Linked DNA regions of Homo sapiens: region 2 is linked to region 1. A link means that fine-mapping ties the variant in region 1 to the expression of a gene that starts in the linked region. Tissue or cell type: whole blood. Region 1 holds a variant in brackets; the other region holds the start of a gene. All regions are shown on one strand. Distances are between the middles of the regions.

Evidence for each region. PIP is the estimated chance that this variant, and not a neighbour inherited with it, causes the effect.
Region 2: UMAD1 starts here. The variant in region 1 is fine-mapped to the expression of UMAD1 in whole blood (TOPMed, PIP 0.93).

The regions. Positions count from the first base shown.
Region 1 is chr7:7,746,774-7,749,540 of GRCh38, reverse strand. The region is part of intron 2 of UMAD1 (UBAP1-MVB12-associated (UMA) domain containing 1); the gene reads right to left. Among named protein-coding and RNA genes, the nearest start is that of RPA3, 30 kb to the right of the region's middle. The variant C/T (reference allele first, on the strand shown) is at 1,317.
Region 2 is chr7:7,639,291-7,641,923 of GRCh38, reverse strand. It overlaps UMAD1 (UBAP1-MVB12-associated (UMA) domain containing 1), which reads right to left and starts at 1,172. Exons shown (of 4, transcript NM_001302348.2): 1 at 1,103-1,172. It overlaps RPA3 (replication protein A3), which reads left to right. Exons shown (of 8, transcript NM_002947.5): 5 at 749-1,604. The coding sequence starts at 1,506. RefSeq lists enhancers at 712-881, 962-1,011, 1,052-1,251, 1,522-1,571, 1,942-1,991 and a silencer at 1,352-1,481.

The DNA of each region.
Region 1 (2,767 bases):
AAATTAAGTACTGGAAGCTAAAATTGCTAAATATTCTATAAGCCATGAAAAAAACGCTTACCCACTCCCATTCCTGGAAAAGGCATTAACTAATGTTCCTCAAATATTTTTCCTTGGATTAGGCAGAAACAGTTCAAACCCACAGAAGACACATAGCTTTCACGTGGAATACGGGCTATTAAAGTGTGCACTGCTGGAAAGTAATTAAACCATACTGTACTCTCACTGAGGTGAGATTATAAAAACCTAGAAAAGAGTCCTTCAAGGAAAATGTGTCAAAACCATTTAAATTAATTTAGCACATCAAATTTCACTCTATTTATTGTGGAATTGTTGCAGTTATTTTAACATTAAAAAGAAGTAACTGATAAATTGAATTTGTTATGGAATCCCCCACAAACCTGTCCTCAAATCTATTATAAAACACCAATACCAAGTATGGAAAGGCTCATGCTAGAAAGTTTAAAAACATTATCAAGGGAAATTTTTTTTAAGCAAATACAGAAATCAATGCAAAGCAATCACACTGATCTGGGCGAAGAAGAGCCCAGAGTAAAAGAAAATCATGTGTAATAGGATATCTCTAGCACAGCCAGAAAAGGAGGGATAAAAGAGGGAATTAGGAGTGTGAGAAGTTTGGCAGTTCTTAGATTTACTGATGACCCTGCCTGGCTGATAGAGCTAAATCCTAAAGTATCCTTCTGATAAATATTACATTATTTTCCCCAAATTTTTGCTCCTAAAAATAAAAGAATTTTTTAAATTTTTATATATACAAATATATAAATATACACATATACTTATATGTCTATAAATGTACTACTCATCCCCAAAGAACAACATGATAGGTTGTATTTTAACAGGAATGAAGGTAATAGATGGGAATTTGGTAAATGTGTAAATCGGCATTATGATTATATTATTAATATTAATGTGCCACCACAGGAAAATGTTGATAACCTTGCTGTAAATGTAAATCTAAGCCAAAAATAAGTCCTTCCTCACTTGATCCCCTCAAAAAATTACAGCAGCTCTAACAATGAGACATTGATTAATTTATATTCCAATCTGGAAATGGTTATCTAGTTCTGTGGCAGAAGTAGATTTCAAAATATCACTGTTAGTCTACCATATGTCTAGAAATCTTTATTTTATAAATGCATATTGAATTCATATGTTATAATTTATGGAATATAATTTGGTTTAAGGAATTATTATATTATAATTTTATGACATAAACAATTACATAACAAAAAGTAAATAATAAAACATATAACTTTATAAAATAAAACATATAGGCCGGGCACGGTGGCTCA[C/T]GCCTGTAATCCCAGGACTTTGGGAGGCCGAGGCGGGCGGATCATGATGTCAAGAGATCAAGACCATCCTGGCCAACATGGTGAAACCCCGTCTCTACTGAAAATACAAAAAAAAAAAAAATTAGCTGGGCGTGGTGGCAGGCCCCTGTAGTCCCAGCTACTCAGGAGGCTGAGGCAGGAGAATCGTTTGAACCCAGGAGGCGGAGGTTGCAGTGAGCCGAGATCACGCCACTGTAAACAAAACAAAACAAGAAACATATATAATCATAAAACATATACTTTATTAGATGATTATGCATTGTTTTCCTACTTTTTTGGCTCAGAAATGGCACATCATCTAATAATTCAATGATTTAGATTTAATTTCTATACATTTTCCCCAAAATACAGGCAAAACTTTCTTTTCCTCTAAGGAAAATTATTTGTTAAACTGAAAATAATGAAGACTAAGTTTTCCATTAAATGGAGAAATAAGGCAACCTAGCAGGTAACAATGAAGATTTCCCATTTCCTGAAACCCTGACCTAGTGGACTCAATGCTAGAGATGAAAGGACCAAAAACCTCCATGTTTGTTCTGTTTTGAGTTACTCCTCTGGCAGCCTTCTCGGCAGTTTCAATTGCCTAAAAGGCTTATTATTTCTTGGAAAAAATATACTTCATAATTACTAAGTGTCATGATAACCTAAGATTTGACGCTTTCTGACTGTCACTGTAATGGAAAGAGAGCCATCCTCTACTACTCTGTGACCTTGACCAAGTCACTGCATATCTTTGAGTCTTGGTTTTCCTCATCCATGAACCAAGATGGAAACATTTGCCCTGCCTTGTTCTAGGGATTTCTGAAAGGACCAAATAAAGTAGCACGTATGAAATGCTCTATGATATAGCAAGTGTTAAACAAATGAGGTGCCATTAATAGTTGCAAGAATAATACTGATTACCTAATTAAATTAAATATACTTAACTGTAGTGGGGCCTTTTGAAACTCTCTCGTTTAAACAATTTCTGTTCTCCTGTAGCAACTCCAAAACAATACTAGGATTTATTCCTTCCCTATTATTTAGGTAAAAGTCTTCATGGCCTAATGGCTAAAGTATCTCATTACTATTTCTCACCATGCACTCGAAGGCAACTTTGCCTACTTAACAATAAACATCATTTCTAATTAGATATATGAAGTGCCTAAAATAAACATGGCAATAACTTCCAATAACAGTTCACACACATACACACAGACACACACACACACACACACACACACACACACAAACATGCACTCCACTTAAAAGAAATATAAACATTTTTTTAAAATCTCTTAAATCTATAGGGCCTTAATACCAGAAGATAGCAATAAGAAACAGGATTGTATGTGTAAACTGTGTCAAAGCCAATAATAAGGCATTCTCAAGTTGTGTTTGAAATTCTTTAAATAAGGTGGCCTTTTTAGCGA
Region 2 (2,633 bases), 110 kb after region 1:
AAACCTATTAAGTGCTAAGGAAACACTAAGGGAGACTATCATTTAATTATCGTACATGAGATTCCAATCTTAAATTGCCACGTGAAGTCTCAAATCGGATCTTTTTTGCTTAAGGGAATTTGAACGATGACAATTCTGTAGCTTTGGGCCAATTCACAGACTCAGTTTCCACAACGTTATAATACCCAATTAAAACTTCTGTCCAATTTCCACCGTACCGTTTGAAGGTATTTTTATGTGCACTCATTCTAGAATACTCCTGGCAAGGCCGCCGGCTTCGGGTCACAAGATGAGCCAGGGACAGATTGGAGACTACCCCCAAATCTCCCAGGAATCGGTTATCTTCCAGACCTCCAGATCGCCCTCCAGAGTCTCGCAGTGTGGAGGGCAACGACAGAAAGACTGCTGAGGGGGTTTAAACTGTTGAGTCAAACATATGGCCAAAAGTCAGAGTCAACTGGGACCTTGCAAATCATTCCGCCTAACCCTTCGTTTTGCAGATGGGGAAAACACGCCTCAGAAGGGAGAACCCTAGCTCGGGGAACCCTAGCTCGGGGTCTAACAACGATTTAAGCTTGTCTCCCCTAGTACTGGCCAGTGGTTCTTCCCCGTTACCCATCCTTAAGTGCTTCTATTGGCTGCCAACACGGAGGGGTTAGCGGGGTGAAAGAACCGGCGCCTCCGCAGTGTGGCCAGGTTGGGCTAAAAAACGTCTTAGAAGTAATCGGATCAATCTCTCTTCTTACAGGTGGAGAAAGTGGAGAAAGTAGAGTGACGCAGCTAAGGGAGTAAATCGACCCTCAGCCAACAAGTGGCAAAAGCCTGAAGAAAGTGATCAAGATCACTGATGACCCCGCTGCCCATCTCCAAGGGGGCGGGTATCACAACCCCGACGCCACACCACGTATCATTCCGCAAAACTCCCGCGCCTCCCACGCAGAACTGGCAAGAGGGAAGGCGAGACAGCAGTGAACAGCTGGTACGCAGCACCCACAGCACCGCGGCAGCAGCTAGTGCCGACTCCCGCCTAGCTCTTTTGACTCTGTTCGCGGGAAGAATGGGGAAACAGTAAGGTTGCGGCGCCTCCCGCGAGACGAGGTACCTGAGGCTGGCCCCGCAGTCCCCCGCCGCACCAGCACCGGAGCTTCACACCCCACTTCCGGGGTCAAGTCACCGCCGGGAATCCTGTGATCGCAGAAAGGTAGTCTCAGGTTCCGCCCCTATCCAAGTCCCGCCTCCACTGCCTCTCGCCCTGTATCTGTCAACTTCCGGGACGCCGCGCGTCACTAAGCAGCCAATCTCCACTTCCGGACTCATCCAGCCCCTTCTCCACCCCTTTCAGAGACAGCGCGATTGCGATTTAGGTTTCCGCGCATTTAATTGGCGAAGCTGGAGCGCTAGTCTTCGCTGATTGGTGCCGAGAAATCTGCCCCATAGACACCCGCGGGGCGCACAGTTTCAGTCGTCCGTGGGTTTCCCGCCAGCCGCAGTCTTGGACCATAATCATGGTGGACATGATGGACTTGCCCAGGTCGCGCATCAACGCCGGCATGCTAGCTCAATTCATCGACAAGCCTGTCTGCTTCGTAGGGAGGCTGGAAAAGGTGTGCGGGTTCGCAATCATGGGCTCCCAAGTCCGTAGCTGGAGGGAGGGACCCCGCCTGGATAACGGGGGATGAAAAAGGACGGAAAGCCTCCGATCACTGCGCCCCCGACTCCTTTATTTTGCACAAGGAACTTTTTGGAAATTCTTTAGCCGTTGTAGCCCCATTTTGGCGCTCTTTTATGGCACGGAAACAAAGTGTTTTCAAATGCTGAGTTCTAAATTCCAGTGCCCGTCGCCTCCGTTCTAGCCGTGCTTACGTAAGGGAAATTATAAACACCACTCCCACATCTACCTTCAGATTTCTTAGTTTACTCAGACGTGACGGACGCAGACAAAACTAATCTGCTGGTTTCCTTCTCTTCTGAAATTACTTATTTTTGCAAACCTCGTTTCCTCGTTGTGATCGCTTCTCTGTAAAACATGCCTTGGTTGTCCGCTTTGGGTCCCGTAGTAACGAGTTATTTAACCCCAGTATTAAAGTGAAGTTCCCTCATTCTACAGGCGAGAAACAGGCCCAAAGTCTTGGAATCAGTGACCTGAAAAGCTGAGGAAAAGAAAACTATTATATAAAGACTTATTTAGTAGCTCATTTCATCCACACATCCTCTTCCTTAAATGAGTGTTGCTCTGACTTCCCAAGTAGGGAAACTGAGTAGGAGTGGTAGGTGGTTGACTAAAATGCTCAGAAACTCGGCAAATGGCAAAGCTGGCATTCAAACGCAATCTGACAGCGCTCTTTACAGCTGCTTCCCAGGAGTAGGACCCAGATATTCTAGCAACCAGTTCTCCTTTTACTTCATCATGCCTGTTTTTTAAAACATACCCTCCGTGGGATATGTACTGTCTAAATCATGAGTGCCAGCAGATTTCACTTTTAGGGTGGGCATCCTTTAATTTGTTATCAGAATAGGGTTGCCATATTTAGCAAATACAGAACCTACTTAACACTACAAAAAAAATCCTTGTTTATCTGAAATTCAGAAATTAACTGTGTGTTCCATGAACAGATTTGATAACATAAGATTAT